Linked DNA regions of Homo sapiens: region 2 is linked to region 1. The links come from fine-mapping of genetic effects on gene expression. A gene starts in region 1. The other region holds a variant in brackets. All regions are shown on one strand. Distances are from middle to middle.

Evidence for each region.
Region 2: its variant is fine-mapped to the expression of RRP36 in whole blood (INTERVAL, PIP 0.97).

What each region holds. Positions count from the first base shown.
Region 1 is chr6:43,015,471-43,026,165 of GRCh38, reverse strand. It overlaps RRP36 (ribosomal RNA processing 36), which reads right to left and starts at 4,543. Exons shown (of 7, transcript NM_033112.4): 1 at 4,382-4,543; 2 at 1,034-1,181; 3 at 837-903; 4 at 25-129. The coding sequence starts at 4,511. KLHDC3 (kelch domain containing 3) reads right to left here. Exons shown (of 11, transcript NM_057161.4): 2 at 8,820-9,032; 3 at 8,471-8,647; 4 at 8,198-8,313; 5 at 7,950-8,021; 6 at 7,610-7,823; 7 at 7,447-7,533; 8 at 7,195-7,303; 9 at 7,001-7,074; 10 at 6,800-6,878; 11 at 4,872-5,499. The coding sequence starts at 8,973. The coding sequence ends at 5,433. It also overlaps a transcript of MEA1 not described here. RefSeq lists enhancers at 3,528-4,259, 4,642-4,691, 4,752-4,861, 4,260-4,991 and silencers at 4,342-4,411, 4,422-4,471, 4,482-4,551.
Region 2 is chr6:43,161,984-43,172,678 of GRCh38, reverse strand. It overlaps SRF (serum response factor), which reads right to left and starts at 1,410. Exons shown (of 7, transcript NM_003131.4): 1 at 510-1,410. The coding sequence starts at 1,022. RefSeq lists enhancers at 1-191, 1-450, 1,477-2,206 and a silencer at 922-1,501. The variant T/G (reference allele first, on the strand shown) is at 5,941.

The DNA of each region.
Region 1 (10,695 bases):
ATAAACCAGTCTCAAGCTGTATACCTCTTTCTCTTTCGCTCGGATGTCATTCAAGAATTGGTATGTTTTGTCAAACACCTCAGGATTATATTCCCCTGACAGATCATCAAAGCGAGGGTCCCGGGCTACCTTTGGAGAGAAGAGAGAGAATATAAAACACAACTGTTCAATCTCCTTTCACTGAGAAAAAGTGCTTCCTGTCTCTTCCTCATCTTTCTTTTTTTTTGCTTTTTGAGACACAGTCTCGCTCTGTCGCCCAGGCTGGAGTGCAGTGGTGCAATCTCGGCTCACTGCAAGCTGTGCCTCCCAAGTTCACACCATTCTCCTGCCTCAGCCTCCTGAGTAGCTAGGACTACAGGCACCCGCCACCACGCCCGGCTATTTTTTTTTGTATTTTTAGTAGAGACGGGGTTTCACTGTGTTAGCTAGGATGGTCTCAATCTCCTGACCTCGTGATTCGCCCACCTTGGCCTTCCAAAGTGCTGGGATTACAGACATGAGCCACTGCGCCCGGCCTCTATTTTTTTTTTTTTTTTTTTTTTTGAGACAGAGTCTTACTCTGTCCCACAGGCTGTAGGGCAGTGGCATGATCCTGGCTCACTGCAACCTTCACCTCCCAGGTTCAAGCGATTCTTGTGCCTCAGTTTTCCAAGCAGCTGGGACTACAGGCACACACCACCATGCCCAGCTAATTTTTGTATTTTTAGTAGAGACAGGGTTTCACCATGTTGGCCATGCTGGTCTTGGAACTCCTGATCTCAGGTGATCGCCCACCTCGGGCTCCCAAAGTGCTGGGATTACAGGCGTGAGCCACAGTGCCTGGCCTTCTTCCTTACCTTTTTACTAATGGGAACAACCTGACGTAAAAATGGTACTCGGATCTTGGCTGACATTTCCAGAGGCCTATGGAGAAATTAAAAGCCAAGTCAAGAGGACTCCAGTGTTGGTCAAAGGCTTCCCACCTGTCACCCAAGACAACATACCTATTCAAGGTCCCAGTTATCTTCCAACTTCTAGGGCAAGCCTTGCTTACCTGTGCTTATCTGCAACACATGCATTTTGGATAGGTGGTCTAGAAGCTTGTTTCTTAGGACTATTTCCAGCTACCAATTGTTTGTACGTCTTAGTCCCCACTTGGCTCTGCAATTCCAACAGCTCCTCAAATGACATGTTAGATGTGCCTGTGGAAGTGGGGAGGGACATACAACTCAGCTCAGCATGTCCCACTGCAGAAAAGACATCTTCCCATCCCCATTCCTTAGCTAGCTAATCCTAATACCCCATCAGACCAATCATTATTAGAAGTCCTAGGCAGCAGAGGCTGTGATAGTGTTAAACTCTCCAACTATTTCAGCAACCTGGGGCCTCATCTTGCTAAGGAAGGTGTATATGTAAGGTCAAAGGTGCACCAAACCATAGTCCCTTCTTTTTCTCTTTTACTCATTCTTTTACTCTCTCTTTTACTCATTCACAGGTTTCCCCAGAAGGGCATCTGCCTCCCTTGCTCAGTTACCATTGCCAGTGTCCTGGTCCACATGCTCAGCATCTCTCACCTCAATCAGTGCTCTAGCCTCCTAGTCTCCCAACCACCAGCCTCACTCCTCTCAAAGCTATGCGCCTCAATTCAGCCTGAGAGAGGCATCGAAAATAAAATCAGATCTTATCACTCCCACACATAAACTTCAGATCATGTTACTCCTACAGGCAAAAGTCCCCAATGGCTTCCATCTTGCTCACAGTAAAAGCCATGTACCTTAATAATGGCCTGCAAGCCCCCAAGTGACCTGGCCCCTGTCATATCTCTACTCTACTCATCTCCTTCTCACTCCTCTCAATGTGTCTCCTAGCAGCATATTCCCACCTCAGTTCCTCTGCACATGTTGCCTCTGCTTGGTACACTTCCCCCAGAAACTGTACATAGGTACAGCTCCTCCCTCAGTTCCTTCAAGCCTTTATTCAAAATCACCTTCCCAAAGAGGTCTTCTCTAAGTTATTTAAAATTGCGACCCCTCGTCCAGGTGTGGTGGCTCACGCCTGTAATCCCAGCACTTTGGGAGGCTGAGGCAGATCAATCACCTGAGGTCAGGAGTTTAAGACCAGCCCGGTCAACATGGTGAAACCGTCTCTACAAAAATACAAAAATTAGCTGGGCATGATGGCAGGTGCCTGTAATCCCAGCTACTCGGGAGGCTGAGGCGGGAGAAGAGCTTGAACCTGGGAGGCAGAGGATGCAGTGAGCCGAGATCACGTCACTGCACTCCAGCCTGGGTGACAGAGCGAGACTCCATCTCGGAAAAAAAAAAAAAATGCAACCTCTCCTAAGCTTTATTTTTTCTCCATATCCTCTATCACCTTAAAAAAAATTGAGCTATAATTCATATTCCACAAAATCCAGTTCTCTAGTCTACAATTCAGTGTTTTATTGCCTTTTAATGTAATAATTTACTTGTCTCCCTTAAATTTTACTTATTTATTTTGAGCTGGACTCACTCTGTCACGAGGCTGGAGTGCAGTGGCGCGATCTCGGCTCACTGCAACCTCCGCCTCCCAGGTTCAAGCGATTCTCCTGCCTCAGCCTCCTCAGTAGCTGGGACTAAGGCACGCACCACCAAGTCCAGCTGATTATTGTATTTTTAATAAGGACGAGTTTCACCATGTTGGCCCAGATGGTCTTGATCTCCTGACCTTGTGATCCGCCCACCTCGGCCTCCCAAAGTGCTGGGATTACAGGCATGAGCCACACCTGGACTTAAATTTTATTTATTTTGAAAAAAGGTCTTGCTCTGTTGCCCAGGCTGGAGTGCAGTGGCCTAATCACTGCTCACTGCAGCCTCGACCTCCTGGGCTCAAACTATCCTCATGCCTCAGCCTCCTCAGTGGCTGGGAATACAGACGTGGGCCACCACCCTGGCTAAATTTTTTTATTTTTAGTAGAAAAGCGGGTCTCATTATGTTTACCAGGCTGGTCTTGAACTCCTGGGCTCAAGCGATCCTCCTGCTTCAGTCTCCCCTGGTGCTGGGATTACAGGTGTGATCCACCACACCCGGCCAGGATAGGAGTGTTTGACTACTTTATTCACAACTATCTCCAGCAGCTAGAACTGTGCCTTAACAAAAAGCCTGCAGCATTTGCTGGGCACAGTAATCCTGTAATCCTTGGGAGGCTGAGGCGGGTGGATCACTTGAGCCCAGGAACTGGAGACCAGCCCTGGCACCTGGTAACATGATGAGACCTGGCTGGGCGAGGTGGCTCACGCCTGTAATCCCAGCACTTTGGGAGGCCGAGGCGGGCGGATCACGAGGTCAGGAGATAGAGACCATCCTGGCTAACACGGTGAAACCCCATCTCTACTAAAAATACAAAAAATTAGCCGGGCGTGGTGGCGGGCGCCTGTAGTCCCACTACTCGGGAGGCTGAGGCAGGAGAATGGCGTAAACACGGGAGGCGGAGCTTGCAGTGAGCTGAGATCGCGCTACTGCACTCCAGCATGGGCAACAGAGCGAGACGCCGTCAAAAAAAAAAAAAAAAAAAAGGTGAGACCTTGTTTCTACATTAAATAAATAAATAAATAAATAAACAAACCCATCCGTGCAGGCGTGGTGACGCGCCTGCAGTCCCAGCTACTCGAAAGGCTGAGGTAGGAGGATCTCTTGGGCCCGGGAGTTCGAGGCCGCAGTGAGCCGTCATGGTGCAACTACACTCCAGCCTGGGCTACAGGGCGAGACTTTGTCTCAAAAAAATAAAAAATATAAAAAATTTAAAAAACAGGCTGGGCGCAGTGGCTCACGCCTGGAATCCCAGCACTTTGGGAGGCTGAGGCGGGCGGATCACGAGGTCAGGAGATCGAGACCATCCTGGCTAACAAGGTGAGACCCCGTCTCTACTAAAAATACAAAAAATTAGCCGGGCGTGGTGGCGGGCGCCTGTAGTCCCAGCTGCTCTGGAGGCTGAGGCAGCAGAATGGCGTGAACCCGGGAGGCGGAGCTTGCCGACATCGCGCCACTGCACTCCAGCCTTGGCGACAGAGAGAGACTCCGTCTCAAAAAAAAAAAATTAAAAAAACAAAGTCTACGGAATCTGCTGAATTCTGATCTACTAAGCCTTCAGCAGCCATGCATGCCTTTTCCTGCCTCCATGCTATTGCACATACGTTCCCCATCGCCGAAAACCCTCATCCTGCCGTGAAGAAACTTCTCAGGATGTCCTAATCCCGGAAGCATCTACTCTCACCCCCCACTTTCCACTGCACTGGGGGCACCCCTAGTGTAGCGTCTGCCTCTTAGAGAACTTGGCAGTCTTACCGGCACCGTCTCTGCAGGCTCAGGGCCCCGCCTGGGAATCTCCTTCCCCTCCCCAGCCCGCCCTGCCCCATGCCCTCACCCCTCAATAGGTCGCGGGCCACGGCCGCGGGCTCCAGGCCCCCGCCGTCCTCCTCGCGGTCCCGGGCCCCGCGGGGACGTCGGGCCCCGGCCCCGGCCCCGGCCCCGGCGCGGTAGTTAGCTCCCGGCATCAGCTGGCAGTAGCGCTCGGAAGACGAATGGCGCCGCTTCCGCTCACGGCAGCCCCTGCCCCGCCTCTTCCGGCGTTCCCGGTCTCAACGTGGTGACGAATGGGCAGAAAACTGCGCGGTCGAGGGCCAGGGAGCCGGGCCCAAAGGATAACCCGCTCTGGAGACATTGTCGCAACCTTCTGCCCGAGTCGCAGGGTGCTGGGTTCCACGCCCGAGAAGCTTGGACCAGGCCTTGGTGGCATTTGGTTTCCTAATACCCTTGGCTGAGAAGCCAGAACCTCAGGGTGCTTGTCCTCGGCACCCTGCCCCCACTGCAAACTCCAGCCTTCTCCACCATATTCCACAAAAACACACAACACGTTTGGAGATTTTAATTAATTTTTATAAAATCTGAGCTGGCTGAACTTCAGAGTACAGCGACAGCTCAAGGAAGGGTGGGATTTATCTGCTGGTCCCCACCTCCCCAAGACGGGGAGAAGGAGGTCTCATGCCAACAGCTGCAACTCCTTTCAGCTCCCAGTCAAGGCTCAAGGCTCAAGCAGAGGGGAGGGGATAGGCAAAGGGGGAGGGGGAAGCTCCTGAGGCTCAGACACTGCTTGCTTCTCCCTTCTCCCCATTCCCTTCCCTTCCCAGCAGAACCTGGCTGGCCCTGGGCAGAGCTGAGGCCCAGGAGCAGCTGAAAGGAGGTGGATGGGGACAGAGCACCAAGGGGAAGGGGCCCTCGGCCCAAGGGGGGAGGAACCTAGCCCCCACCCCGCTACAGCTCCCCACTGAATTCACAGCACAGAGAACACCTCTCGCCCAACAACTCCACATGGAGGTATACCAAGTCCAGGGGTCAAAGGAGCAGGTGGGTGACAGATGGGCAGGGGCAGTGAAGATGACAGCAGGCTCAGGAGGGGAGGTGGCAGAAACTTCCTCCTACCCATGGGAGGAGACGATGGGGCGACTGATATTGCTGTTGGTGGTCATGGCATTCAGCTCCCACCTGGAAGGCCAACAATAAGAGACAGAAAGAAGAGGGGGCCCTCAGCCCAAGCTAAGGGATGTTTGAACCAAGCTAAAAACACACCAGTCTCTCCAACTTCCTAAAGGTCAACCACCCACAGCCACCTCTTACTTAAGAGACCTACTAGGTTGAACAATCAGAACCCACCCACCACCAAATCCAACACCACCCACTCCTCTACCTCCAAGCTCATATGGATTTCCGGTTTATGTTTATGTATGTATGTATATTGCAGTGTCCAGGCACCTGAGATCTGTGTATACATGTCAGTCAACATCCCAACCTGCCTTTCCTGCTTTGCTTAGAGCCAACCAGGCAGCCCCTCCACCTTACCCTCACCAGGAATGCCTCACCCCACCAGGAATACCCATTTTTGCTCTTAACTCCCATCCTTTTAAGGCTCTGACTCAGCACTCCTATCCTTCCTGAGGCCTTCCCCACCCACCCAACCATATTAATTTTTTTTTTGAGTCTTGTTCTGTCACCTAGGCTGGAGTACAGTGGTGCAGTGGCACAATCTTGACTCACTGAAACCCCCGCCTCCCGGGTTCAAGCAATTCTCTTGCCTCAACCTCCCAAGTAGCTGGGACTACTGGTGGCTGCCACTATGCCCAGCTAATTTTTGTATTTTTAGTATAGACAGGGCTTCACCATGTGGCCAGGATGGTCTCGAACTCCTGACCTCAACTGATTTGCCCACCTCAACCTCCCGAAGTGATGGGATTACAGGTATGAGCCACCATGCCCAGCCAGCAAGAGTTAAACTGAACTGATACAAAGAGACGAAGTATCTCAGAATGACCCAGACAGGAAAAATTATATACAAAGTAACATCTGGTGGTTAATTTGAACCTGAAAAATTATACATAAAGTAACATCTGGTGGTTAATTGGAACCTAAGAACGAAATTCAAAGGGAAGCAGCCAGATCTTCTGGAACCAATGTGATCCAGAGGCTCCTAAACTTGTCTTTACTTTGCAGCTAGGTTCTAAGATTTAATCAGTTGTTCTCAGCATGGTCACAAAAATAACTGTATAAGCTTAGGTCTCAGAAAGTGATGCTGCCGAGCTGTATTTTTTTTTCATATAATTTATTCTGCTGACAGTTTTATATGATGGCTGTCAATTCACCTCCTTCCATCTCATTTCCCACAAGTACACTACATCTCCAGCAGAACAAAAATGTCTGTCTCCTCCATACTGAAACCAAGCTAATCAGGTCACACCTGTGCTGCTCACTCACCCTCACTCAATCCCTCCCTTCCAACCACTCGCTGTACCTGATATCATGAGGCAAACAGGACTGGTCTAGGTTATACTGAATCACGGCCAGTTTGCACAGAGTCTTCAGACTAGGGCCTTTAAGGGAGAAGTTGTGGAAAGGAGATGGTCAAAGGTGAGGAAAGGATCCAGTCCTGGATATCACCACCCAAAGACAGGGACCTTGATGGCAGGAGCAATTCAGGAATAACTATACTTACTAAAGTCCAAAATGTGTAAGTCAGAATGATCTATAAGGTCAAATTCATCTCCCAGGCCTTCCTCAGGAGATGGACTGTCGGGATCAAAAGAGAGATGAAAGTAGGACAAAAACTACCCACGAAACCCCCTTTTCAAATACCTCCCACTCTCCCATTAGTGACTTCCCTGAGCCCCTTCCCTCTCTCCTTCTAACCTGGTACCCCCAAAGAGGACAATCTTGTCACCAACAATACAGCAGCACTGGCGCCGGCGGGGACATGGCCCCTTCCCCTTCGGTTCAATCTTTTTCCAGGTAAAGGACACTGAAGAGAAATTTATATGGAAGTTCAATACCTGCCTAGTCCAGGTATCTTCCCCACCCCCATCCCTCACCGCCTCAGGATTATTTTCTTTTCCTCCCACCTCAATTGCTCCTTGTTCCTGCCCTAAATGCAGTGCTCTTTACCAGGATTAAACTTCCAGAGGTCATGGAAGTGCCGGTTCAGCCTTGCATTATAACCACCAAAGATGTACAGCTCCCCATTGTAGCCAACTGGAAGGAGAGAGGAAGTGTCAGGAGTGTGAAGAGGGCAGGAAGGGAACTCCACAGGGAAGTAACAAACACTCACAGGCCGAGTGGCTCCGGCGCCCCTCAGGCAGCACTGGAGTCGGGGGACAGTCCAGCCAAGCCTCAGTTCTGGTGTCAAAGACTCGAATGCGGTTGCAGTAAATCTCATTGTTGGAATGGAATGGCCCAAAGCGGTCGGCACGGCCCCCAAAGACATACATGTGACTTCCCAGCATTGTGGCTGAGTGGAAGTCCCTCCAGCGTGCAGGGCTGCCCTGGGCAGAGGCAGAGAGATGGTGGAGGGGTCAGCACAAAGACTGGAAGAGGATCTCCTCTGACTGAGCTTCCTATCATTGCTTCAACAGAGGGTGGGGATTTGGGAAAAAAAAGAAAGAGCAGACCTTTGTACAGATAAGAGTCCATGTCATGGTGCTGGTATCTAGCTTGTGAATGTCATTGGAAAAACAGTCCGCCTGAGTAGGAAGAGAAAAGGAGGAAGAAAAGAGGGAGCCAATGGTCACTCTCTGACCCTCCATCCCTCCCCTCAAAACCTGCAAACAAGCCAAAGCCTCCCATTTCACCATCCTAAATTGCCCTTCCCCTCTTTCTCAGTCCCACCCTAAACCTCTTATTTTATTCCCAGACCTACCTGCTGCTCGTAGCCCCCAAAAATGTACATGATCTTGCCTAGGACACAGGCTGAATGTCCATCCCGGGCCCCAGGAACTGTCCCTGACACTCGGGGTGTGAACCACTTGTGCGTATCTGAAGGAGATGAGAAAATGGCTCAACTAAGCACCCTCTATGACAGTCCCTCCTCAGCTCTGGGGTACTCTACTCCCCAAGACCCCCAACCCAAACCTTTCTTGGGCAACTGAGGCAACATCTGGAAGGACATAGCCTCTCTGAGATCCATACTCACTGACGTCAAAGGCATAGAGCACATTGCAGGCCCCTTCGGTGTCATTCCGCCCGCCCCAAAGGAGGACTGTGTCGTCGATGAGGACGGTTGAGTGTCCATAGCGCATGTAGGGTACCACAGGAGCTTGCCCACGGATGGCAGACTTCACCGGGGGCAGCTTTGTCCAACGCAAGGACACTGTGGGCACAGCTCTGCTCAGCCCTGGGAACCTCCCTCCAGGCTGTCCACTTTTCCCAAACCAGATGTTTGTCCCCAATCCCCTTGGTCCCAGAGACCACAGCCAAACCTCATCAGCAGCCCGTTCCCACCCTGATGTGGGGACCCAGGGACAGCCCCAGCATTGGCTTACCTGCATTGAAAATGTGCACATCTATCTGACGCAGTGTCTCATAGTCTTCACCAGAGCAGTAACCCCCGAAGGAGTATACCCGATGCCCGACAGCCACTGCAGCATGGTTCACCCTGCGGGGCCCGCCCTCCAGGTGCACTGTCCACCGTAACATCCCCTGGGCCACTGGTTACAGCAACATGCCCCCCCGGCACGGCCTGCTGCCTCTGCTATCTGCACACAAATTGGGGCCACGGGATCCTCAGGCGAGGCTTCTGCCCAGCTCACTGTGACTCTGCCCAGAACCAGCCTTTGCCTCCAAGTGTCACCCTGGGGGCCCTCCCACACTACCCCTCCACAGGGGCACTAGTCTCAGCTCAGGTGGCTGGCCCTGCCCCAAGGGAGCTGCCGAGGTCAGGGAGCAGCCTGGGCCCAGTGTTCTCCAACAGTGAAGGGTGGGGCCACCCCCACCTGATTGCCAGCTCAGAATCTGCATATCATGGTCACAACCTACTCGTGGAGGCTCCACTCTGTCCCTGGCTTGGCACAAACTTGAAGCCCCCTTCCCAAACGGTATATTCTCTTGTCTCTGCTCTGCTTACTGCCACCTCTCTAAGAATCTGTGTTCTTTGAGGTGGGGAAAGGGATCTCAAAATACTCACAGCTATTAATAGCCCAGCCAGCCTCAAACAGTCCATTGAAAGCTGGCATGAGTGCCTCAAAGCAGAAAAGCTTTCAGGCTTTTAGAGTGGAACAATCCCCCTACCCAAGATAGGGCGGGACTGATCCAGGACAGGGACCTCCATGTTACCGCGGTTGGTTAGCCCCTCACAGGGAGCTCCTGTCAAGCTGAGTTGTTGTCATTGGGGTCACCCAGGGCCCCCCACAGGCACAAGGAGTTCCTTTGACAGCTGTGCCTGGTATGCTGCCAGGACTTAAGCCAGAAAGGTATGTGTATGCTTAGGCTTGGGGGATGGTGATAGAGGGAGGGGTTTTCTCCTCCTGCCACTTCCCCATCCCTGCTACTGTGGTAGAGAACAAGCCATTTCCAGTAGAAAAGAGAGAACAAGCTCTTCCACAACTTGGGTTCCTGAAAGGCGGATAGAGGTGGGAGTGTGCAATGCAAAGGGGAAGGGGCTGGGCACAGTGGCTCACACCTGTAATCCCAGCACCCTGAGAGGCCGAGGCAGGTGGATCACGAGATCAAGAGACGGAGACCATCCTGGCCAACATGGTGAAACCCGTCTCTACTAAAAATACAAAAATTAGCTGGGCACGGTGGCGCGCACCTGTAGTCCCAGCTACTCAGGAGGCTGAGGCAGGAGAATTGCTTGCACTCGGGTGGCGGAGGTTGGAGTGAGCCGAGATCACACCACTGCACTCCAGTCTGGCGACAGAGCGAGACTCTGTCTCAAAACAAAAAAAAAGGGGAAGGGAGGCAAAAAATGCCCTTGGGCAGGACAAGAGAAAGATCCAGCATGAGAAGTCATGGTCTTTTTTTTTTTTTTTTTTTTTAGATGAAGTCTCGCTCTTGCCCCCAGGCTGGAGCGCAATGGTGCAATCTCAGCTCACTGCAAACTCTGCCTCCCTCCCGGGTTCAAGCGATTCTCCTGCCTCAGCCTCCCAAGTAGCTGGGATTACAGGCGCCTGCCACCATGCCCAGCTAATTTTTGTATTTTTAGTAGAGATGGGGTCTCACTATGTTGGCCAGGCTGGTCTCAAACTCCTGACCTCAGGTGATCCACCGTCCTCGGTCTCCTGAAGTGCTGGGATTACAGGCGTGAGCCACCATGCCCAGCTGGTCATGGTCTCTTAAACACAACCTGTCAACCTAGTGGCACGTACACCTGGGTACATCTGAGGTTTTTTCAGGCAAATCCTTGCAACTGACAATGCT
Region 2 (10,695 bases), 150 kb before region 1:
TGCCTGTCCTTCCAACCAGCACTACTCTCGTGGTGCCCACTTCCTCCCACACATGTTCGCTCATTGTTGTCATGCAGCTCCAGCCTCCTCACCTCCATACCTTCTCGTTTGCTCCCTGCTTTTCCGGCGCCCTCGTCCGAACACCGGAGTGCACTGGACCTACTGATCCCGGGTTCTCATTATCCACCTCCCCGGCAGCCTCGTAGCCTCCCATCACCGCTCCTCACCCCTTCACTCAGCAAGGGCCCTCTTCCTCTCTGGCGCCGGTCACTCCCACCTCTGCGCCTTTCCCCACGGTTGCGAGCGTTCGCGGGATCTCCCCTCTCCCCACATTTCCCCGGCGGCCCCTCCCCTTCGGCCCTCCCCGGGCAGGAGCCATCCCCTCCCACACACCTCCTGCGGACTCGCAGCCTCTCACCTCCGCCTCGGCTCTGCGGTCCTCCCGGGCTCCCTTTGCACATCCCCACCCCAACCGGGCCCCGGGGCCGGCCAGCCCCCCGGCTTGGTACCTTCTTCATGATGCCCGTCTTCCTCTTGCTGAAGGTCGTGTAGCGCCGCAGCTTGTTGTCGATGAACTCCATCTTGATCTTCACGCGGCCCCGGGTCTTCTTACCCGGCTTGGCCCCGCTCACCGCGCCGCTCACCGGCCCGTAGCCCCCGGTGGCCGCTGCCGACGCCTCGGGCCCACCGACCACCATACCGATCTCCATCTCGCTCAGGCTCCGCTTCAGGCCGCGCCGCTCGGCGCCCAGCTCCTCCTCCTCGCCCGACTCCGAGTCGCCCTCGCTGCCGCTGTAGAGGGCCCCCGCGGTGGGCGCCGGGGTGGTTGCCGCCGCTGCCGCAGCCTCCCGCTCCAGGCGGCCGGGCCCGAGCCCCGCGCCATTCCCGGGGACCCGGCCCCCGTTAGCCCCGCGTGTCCCGCCGCCGCCGCCCGGCCGCCCCGTCGGGGTCCGGTTCAGGCTGCCCCCCAGGGCCGAGCCCCGGCCCAGAGCCGCCGCGGCCCCAGCTTGGGTCGGTAACATGGCGCTCGATGCAGGAGGGCGGACGGGCAGTCAGCGAGGAATCGGAGCCGCCGCAGCCGCCGCCATCGGCTTCCCGGCTCAACCCGGCACTCCCGCTGCTGCTAGTGCCGCTATCGCTGCCGCGGCCGCCGCTGCGAACCCGGGGCCCCTGCACGCCCGGGCCGACCTGGGCCCTCACTTTCCTGCCCCTGTGGCCCGGGTTGCCCCAGGCCGCGCGCAGCGCCCCCTGTCCGTCTGCTAGGGCGGCGCGCCGGGCGGCCGTCAGCGTCCCCCGGGGGGCAGGGGCTGCTGGCCGCGGCCGAGACGGCGGGTGGAGGGGGCCGGGACCACGCGCTGGCGGCGGAGGGATCCCCCGACCCTTCCCCCCATATAAAGAGATACAATGTTTCCTTTTATGGCGAGGCCGCTCCTTATATGGTGAGCCCCAGCGCCCCCGCCCCATTGGTCCGTGGTTCCGGCACCTCCGCTCCCCATTGGCCCACAAGAGGGCGCTTATTTGCATAGACATACCGAACTCGTTGCTGTCATCTCGCGTCAGACCGCGACTCTGAGAGGGGTGGAGCCGACGCCTCTTAAAGGAACCGGAGAGCAGGCACGATTCCGCCTCCCTGAACCCGAGAATGATAGAACGGTTTGGGAGGCACCCGCGGAGAAGGAGGCTGGGACTGGAGCGCAGTCTTGCGGAAGAGAGGGAGCAGCACTAGTAAATGGGCACCGGGACCGCTGGAGGCAAACACTGGGGAAACCCCTGGGTGGATTGTGGGGTTTGCAGTAAATAAAAAAATACAGCCCAAATTCCAAGGGAGGAGTGCAGGGATTGATTGGAGCATTTCCTCACGCCTTCCTAAGGGAGGCACAGTTATTGGCTGAGCGGAGAGAGCTTGGGTCCCCGCCCGGTGTCCAGACTCGTCGCGCCCCAGCCTCTCAGCTCTAACTTTTCCCCTACCCCCAACTTCCCTTCCCTTTCCCTCGCTTTTGTAGGCGACGAAACTTTCCCACCGGGCTGGCTCGAGGATCTTCATTCATCATCCTCTGCACTGGGGGGTCTTTGGCAGACATACATCTGGAAAAGGCTGGTGGAGGGGAGGGCGAGAGAGAGAGATCGGCCTCCCAGTCCTGAGGCGGGCAGGGAGGAGAGACGGAGATCAGGGAGGAGAGATGGAGATCAGTGAAGACTTCCAGCTGCAGGCTGGACTTGGGGAGGAGGACGTCCCGAGGATAAAGCCCACCCTACAGCCAGTGCAAAGACTTGGGAAAGTGTGGCCCGACAGAAAGTTTAAGCCCAAGCAAGCACGCTCGCGCACACACACGCACATACACACACTTCTCTGGAAAGCCCGTTGGAGAAAAAAAAAAAAGTTTCACACAGGGTATCGCTCTGTCGCCCAACCTGGAGTGCAGTGGCGGGATCTGAGCTCATTGCAACCTCTGCCTCCCGGGTTCAAGCGATTCTCCCACCTCCGCCTCTCACGTAGCTGGAACTACAGGTGCGCGCCACCACTCTGGCCTAATTTTTGTATTTTTTGTAGAGATGGGGTTTTGCCATGTTGCCCAGACTGGTTTCGAACTCCTGGCCTCAAGCGATCCTTCCCCCTCGGCTTCCCAAAGTGCTGGGATTATAGGCATGAACCACCGTGCCCAGCAGAAAAAAAAAAAAAAAAAAAAAAAAACTTAAAAGATTAGAACTGGGGTGCTGCAAAGTGAGGTTCAAGCTCTGGGTCTGGGTCTTTTCTCCAAAGCAGTGAAAATAGCTTGGACTTTGCTGTTACAGAATTATTTAAATCTGGAATCTGCCTCTTGGTAAGCCCTGTGCCTGGAAACAAGTGACAAGTGATCTGATCTCTCCAGACGCAATATTCATCAATGCTGCTATCCATTCCCTGAGTTTTTTTTTTTTTTTTTTTTGAGACAGAGTCTCGCTCTGTCGCCCAGGCTGGAGTGCACTGGCACGATCTCGACTCACTGCAACCTCTGCCTCCCCAGTTCAAGCGATTCTCCTGCTGCCTCAGCTTCCCAAATAGCTGGGATTACAGGTGCCCACCACCACACCTGGCTAGTTATTTTGTGTTTTTAGTAGAGATGGGGTTTCGCCATGTTGTCCAGGCTGGTCTCGAACTGCTGACCTCAAGTGATCCTCCCACCTCGGTCTCCCAAGGTGCTGGGATTACAGGCATGAGCCACCATGCCGGGCCTATTCCATGAAATTCTTAATGCAGATTTAATGACATAAAGACTAAAGGGCAGAGTAATTGGTCAGTGGTTAGGCAATAGGAGTTACCTGGAGTAAGTCACCTCATCCTAGGGATAAAGCATCTTGGCATGTTTAAGGGGATGGGAGGCAGTGATTATTCCTGCCCGAAAAATTATGGAGATTAAATAAAGCAGTTGATTGTAACCTAGTCATTACTGGTAGTGGTAGTGATATCAATTCAGTATACTACAATCAACATTTAAAAGAATAAATTAATGGGTATCACAAAAAGCAAGGGCAAATATTGTTGCATAAAATGTTTGTTTGCATTATATATAGGTTGAACCCTACAAAATTGCCATTTTATAGGTCAAGAAGGTGGGATATTGTCAATTTCTCATAATTCAGTGTATGTGTGTAATGGATGACAATATTAACTGCATTTCTTACTGTGAGTCACAATCCAAAAGCTTGAAAAATACTGAAATAAAATATGTGCAAGTGATCAGTAAAATATAGTGTGTATTTTGTGTGTATAGTGAATAAAATATAGTGTGTATTTTTTGTCATATAGAGATAAGGTCTCCCTATGTTGCCCAGGCTGGTCTCAAACTTCTGGGCTCAAGCGATTCTCTCACCTCGGCCTCCCAAAGTGCTGGGATTAAAGGCCTGAGCCACTGCACCCAGCCCCCAATAGTTTTAAAGAGGTCTCCCCTCCCTCCACTAATTTACTCTTTACAACAGGTACTTAAACATATGGAACGTGTTAGCCCAAGAGGAAGAACAGGTCAAACAGATAAATAGGTTCCAGAAGGGTTTTAGGGACCACAAATGATGCCTGGGGTCATGTTTTGTCTGAGCACCATAATATTACAGCCAAAGCTCTGGGATTTCATTCCCACCTGCCCTCTAAAGACCCTTTCATTTGCGCCCCCTAGTTTAGACACATGCAGGGGTGACATCCCTCAGCAGGGACAACTGCTCTCTGTCACATCTATAGGGGAGGGTGTCTGGGAAGAACGCAGTCCTTAGCTTCCCTTCAAATAGGCTGCCCTCTCTTCAACTTCTCCCAACTCCTGGGTCATTGCACACCAGTGTTAGTGTCACAGCTTCTCTGTCTGCTTGGGATGGCCCATCTTCATGTCCTTTGTCACCACAGGGAGTCAGGAGGAGACCTCTACCCACACTATTGGATTACTGCAGGTTCCAGAGCCAAAAGTATTGCTAGGGATAAAGTCAAAATCAAAAACTGTCTCATAGAGGTGTTTTATTTGGACCTTATAACATTTAAAAATCATAAGAGTTTACATAAAAATCTGAATGTCTGGCCGGGCGTGGTGGCTCATGTCTGTAATCCCAGCACTTTGGGAAGCTAAGGTGGATGGATCACTTGAGGTCAGGAGTTCAAGACCAGCCTGGCCAACATGGTGAAACGCCATCTCTACTAAAAAAATAAAAAAGTAGCCGGGCATAGTGGCACACATCTGTAATCCCAGCTACACGAGAGGCTGAGGCAGGAGAATCACTTGAACCTGGGAGGCAGAGGTTGCAGTGAGCCTAAATGGGGCCACTGTACTCCGGCCTGAGCTACGGAGTGAGACTCCTTTTCAAAAAAAAAAAAAAATCTGAATATCTGACCTCTCTCAAAAAAATCAGAATTTTTGGTAACACTGGGCCTAGGTACCCACAAAAGCATTATAACCTGGAGCTGATGGTGGCCATAGAAGAGGCTCTCCACTTTACCATAGACTCCACGCAGCCTACTGAGCCTAGGTAAGCTCCTGCCTGGCTGCTCTGAAATGTGAAGTTGAAATGTTCCTCCGAAAAGGCCTGATCAGAGTAGCACCTTGCAACAGATGGGAGCTCATGTCCACCCCAGACCATGAAGGGCCTCTGTAAGTGCATGGGAATTTCAGCCAGATCCCTCACACCACACAGATTCCACCCTGACCTTTCTTTCTTTCTTCTGATTTTTATCACCTAACTAATAACAAACAAAAATTAAGGATTGCTTTTAAAAATTACTGTCATGGCTGGGTGCAGTGATTCACACCTAAAATCCCAGCACTTTTTGAGGTCAAGGTGGGAGGATAATTTGAGTCCGGGAGTTTTGACACCAGCCTGGACAACACAATGAGACCCCATCTCTTAAAAAAAAAAAACACAGGCAGGCAAGGTGGGTCATGCCTGTAATCCTAGCACTTTGGGAGGCCTAGGAGGGTGGATCACCTGAGGTCAGGAGTTCAAGACCAGCCTGGCCAACATGGCAAAAATCCCACCTCTCCTAAAAATACAAAAATTAGCCGGGCCTGGTGGTGTATGCCTATAATCCCAGCTACTCAGGAGGCTGAGGCAGGAGAATCACTTGAATCTGGAGGGGAGAGATTGCAGTGAGCCAAGATCGTGCCACTTCATTCCAGCCTGGGTGAAAGAGTGAAACTTCATCTCAAAAAAAAAAAAAAATGCTGGGGCACAGTGGCACGCATCTGTAGTCGTAGTCCCAGCTACTAGGGAGGCTGAGGTGGGAAGATTGCTTGAGCCCAGGCTGCAGTGAGCCATGATGGCACCACTGCACTCAATCTAGGTAAGAGGAAAACCCTGTCTCAAAAAAGAAAAAAAAATTACTGTCAAAATACCCTAAATCTGTTTTCATTTGGAATTAACCTTTACTCAGGGATTCATAATTTTGCACAGAGGCAAAGAGGGTATCAATTGTGATGGCAGCAT[T/G]AGCAGTAATGGAAAAGAATTTATGAGTCATTGTGCCCAGGAAAAGTCTGGAAAGCCACACTCCAAACACTAATAGTGCTTACCTATGGAGAGTGAGGTTTGGGATGAGAGGGGTGTGTTTTTTTGCTTTATATAAGTTTGTACCATGTGACTTCTTTGACAATCAATATGACTTTTATATTTTTCTTTTAAAATTAAGCAAAAATAGGCCGGGTGCGGTGGCTCATGCCTGTAATCCCAGCACTTTGGGAGGTTGAGGCGGATGGATCGCTTAAGGTCAGGAGTTTGAGACCACACTGGCCAATATGGTGAAACCCTGTCTCTACTGAAAATACAAAAAAAATTAGCTGGGTGTGGTGGCGGGCACCTATAATCCCAGCTTCTGGGGAGTCTGAGGCAGGAGAATCGCTTGAACTCAGGAGGTGGAGGTTGCAGTGAGCCGAAATCAAGGCATTGCACTACAGCCTGGGGGACAGAGCGAGACACTCTTTCAAAATAATAATAATAATAATAATAATAATAAAATTAAGCAAAAATAGGCTGGGTGTGGTGGCTCATGCCTGTGAGCACTTTGGGAGGCTGAGGCAAGTGGATCGCTTGAGCTCAGGAATTTGAGACCAGCCTGGGTAACATGGCAAAACCCTATCTCTACGAAAAATACAAAAATTAGCTGGGTTTGGTGGTACGCACCTGTAGTCCCAGCTACTCGGAAGCTGAGGTGGGAGGATCCCTTGAGCCTGGGAGGTTGAGGTTGGAATGAGCCATGATCTACCACTATACTCCAGCCTAGGTGACAGAGTGAGACCCTATCTCCAGAAAAAAAAAAGAAAGAAAGAAAGAAAGAAAGTAGAGAAAGGAAGGGCAATGACAGTCTCAGGAGCATAGCCATGGCAGGAGAAAAAGAAGCCTTAGGCGGGGCGCGGTGGCTAACTCCTGTGATCCCAGCACTTTGGGAGGCTGAGGCGGGCGGATCATGAGGTCAGGAGATCGAGACCACCCTGGTTAACACCATGAAACCCCGTCTCTACTAAAAGTATAAAAAATTAGCTGGGCATGGTGGCGGGTGCCTATAGTCCCAGCTACTCGGGAGGCTGAGGCAGGAGAATGGCGTGAACCTGGGAGGCGGAGCTTGCAGTGAGCCGAGATCGTGCCACTGCACTCCAGCCTGGGCAACAGGGCAAGACTCTGTCTCAAAAAAAAAAAAAAAAAAAAAAAGCCTTAGCCAGGGCTGGAGAAGGACTGGCCAGAGAAACTGTTGACAGTGTAAAAAAGTGAGGGAGGGCGGGGGGGCGCGGTGGCTCACGCCTGTAATCCCAGCACTTTGGGAGGCCAAGGCGGGTGGATCATGAGGTCAGGAGATCGAGACCATCCTGGCTAACATGGTGAAATCCCGTCTCTGCTAAAAATACGAAAAATTAGCCGGGCGTGGTGGCAGGTGCCTGTAGTCCCAGCCACTTGGGAGGCTGAGGCAGGAGAATGGCGTGAACCCGGAGGCGGAGCTTGCAGTGAGCTGAGATCACACCACTGCACTCCAGCCTAAGTGACAGAGCAAGATAGTCTCAAAAAAAAAAAAAAAAGGTGGGGACGGAGGAGAGTCTCTGAAGAGGAAGGTATGGCCAACAATGTTAGCCACTATGGAGTGCTCAAGGAAGAACAAGAGTTAGAAGAGGATTTAGTGATTAATAACTTTCCAGAGCAGTGCCTTTCAAATATTTCTGGGTGCAACCCACAGTCAGAAATCATTTTTACATTGCAACCTGTGGTCAGTTAGATTATTGCTCCCAACTCTTCACACCCTCTGTTGGAATTATATACATCAACATCCTTGCCGTGTGACTTTGCAGTATGTCCTACTGGTGCTGATGTTGGGTTTTACTGTGTGACTTGCTTTGGCCAATAAAATGTTAATAGACGTGTGTGTGTGTGCGTGAGTGTGTGTGTGTGTAAGAGATGGGGTCTATTTTGCCCAGGTTGGAGTGAGTGTAGTGGCTATTCACAGGAACAATCATTGCACACTACAGCCTCAAACTCATGGGCTTAAAGCGAACCTCCTGCCTCAGCCTCCCAAGTAGCTGGGACTACAGGCACATGCCATGGTGCCAGCTCAGACTTGTGGTTTGAAATGTGCTTGCACAGTTTGGCTTGACCTCTTGCACTCTGCCACTGCATAAGAACATGCTCTGGGTGCCAGCAGACTAGACCTAAGCCAGACCTCCAGCCTGGCACCAAGCACAGCCAAAATCAGCCAACCCTCACCAACCTGCAGATACATGAGTCAGAAAAAAATCTTGTCAGCTAGTAAGATTTGGGGATTACTATGCAGTATCACCACCCAACAGTTAACTAACACACTATCCAATATATATATATATATGCAGCAAATATAACAAAATTTTGTAAAACAACAATTACCCTTAAAGGATACAACGTACTCTGATAGTGCCTATTATGTTTCTTTTTTTCCCTTTTTTTCTTTTTTAATGCTGGTTGCAAACCAGAGTTTGAAAAACACTGCTCTAGAAAAATTTTCCCTTCAACACATCTGAAGGATGTAATGCATGGTGTATACCAGTGACTATGGCTCACTTACTAGCTGTGTAACCATGGGCAAACTACCTGACTTCCCTTGAGACTCAGTTTCCTAATCTGTGAAATGGAAATAATCTCATCTGGCTAACAGAGTAGTTGCAGAGATTAAATGAGATAATGCACATTAAGTGACTAGTGCAGATAAAGTCTTCAAAAAACATTAGCTTTTCTTTTTTTTTTTTTTTTTTTTTTTGAGACAGGGTCTTGCTCTGTCACCCAGCCTGGAGTGCAGTGGTGAGAACCTCCTGGGTTCAAGAGATCCTCCCTCCTCAGCCTCCAGAATAGCTGAGACCATGGGCACACCCCCACTACCCCCAGCTAATTTTTTTTTTTTTTTTTGAGACAGAGTCTCGCTCTGTCTCCAGGCTGGAGTACCGTGGCATGATCTCGGCTCATTTTAACTTCTGCCTCCCAGGTTCAAGCGATTCTCCTGCCTCAGCCTCCTGAGTAGCTGGGACTACAGGCACGTGCCTCCATGCCCAGCTAAATTTTGTATTTTTTTTAGTAGAGACCATGTTGACCAGGATGGTCTCTCTTTTTTTTTTTTTTTTTTTTTTTGAGACAGAGTCTCACTCTGTCGCCCAGGCTGGAGTGCAGTGGTGCGATCTCGGCTCACTGCAAGCTCTGCCTCCCAGGTTCACGCCATTCTCCTGCCTCAGCCTCCCGAGTAGCTGGCACTACAGGCACCCACCACCACTCCCGGCTAATTTTTTGTTTTAGTAGAGACAGGGTTTCACCGTGTTAGCCAGGACGGTCTTTATCTTTTGACCTTGTGATCCACCCGCCTTGGCCTCCCAAAGTGCTGGGATTACAGGTGTGAGCCATGGTGCCCGGCCCTACACCCAGCTAAGTTTTAAATTTTTTGTAGAGGTGTAGTCTAGCCATGTTGCCCAGGCATTTCTGTCACCTCAGCCTTTTAAAGTGCTGAGATTATAGGCATGAGCCACTGTTCCTGTGGCCTTTTATTATTATTATTTTTTGAGACAGAGTCTTGCTCTGTTGCCCAGGCTAGAGTGCAGTGGTGCAATCTTGGCTCACTGCAACCTCTGCCTCCCAGGTTCAACCGATTCTGCCGCCTCAGTCTCCCAAGCAGCTGGGACTACAGGTGTGCACCACCACGCCCAGCTAACTTTTGTATTTTTAATAGAGACAGGGTTTCACCATATTGGCCAGGCTGGTCTCAAACTCCTGACCTCGTGGATCCACCCACCTCAGGTCCCAAAGTACTGGGATTACAGGCGTGAACCACCGTGCCCAGCCGGCCTGTTTTTTTTATTTTTTTGAGACAGGGTCTCACTTGATCACCCAGGCTGGAGTGCAGTGTTGTGATCATAGCTCACTGCCACCTCAAACTTCTGGGCTCACATGATCCTCCTGCCTCAGCCTCCTCAGTAGTTAGGACTACAAGTGCATGTCGCCACACCTGGCTAATTTTTAAATTTTTTGTAGAGACAGGGTCTCACTATGTTGGCCAGGCTGGTCTCAAACTCCTGGTCCCAAGTGATCTTCCTGCCTCAGTCTCCCAAAGTATTAGGATTACAGGTGTGAACCACCATGTCCAGCCTGCTGTTATTTTTATTATTCAGAAGTTTGGTGAGGAGTAAAGGAACTAGAGCAGTTTTGGAGTTCAGGACTCGTTTCTTTTGGATGGTGAACCAGGCTGAAGTTACTGGAATGAGGCAGAGGATAGGTGAGGACACAAGATCCAGGCATTAAGCACCGTCTCTCTGCTTGGTTCTACCTACTTCACTTCCCTCCTAGGGTCTTGAAAGGACTCAGAGACCTGAGTCTGTCACTAACTCCTTCTCCAATCCTACTCTAACTTGCTCCCCTTCACGCTTCTACCCTCCCCATCTGAGCACAAGGATTAGGCCCGTCTAGGTGACAGTCAGAGGACAGCACAGGGTTGCACAGACAACAGGTGATCTTGCCTTCTTCATGCCTGCATGCTCACCTGCCCTGCAAACTGGAGAGAAGAACCAATATCCACCGGTTCATCCTGTCCAAGCCCCACCAGACTCCATGAAGGCACATGGCCCTTTCATTTTTCTCTTTTTTTTTTTGTTTTTTTTTAGACAGAGTCTCGCTGTCACCCAGGCTGGAGTGCAGTGGTGTGATCTCGGTTCACTGCAACCTACATCTCCTGGGTTCAAGCGATTCTCCTGC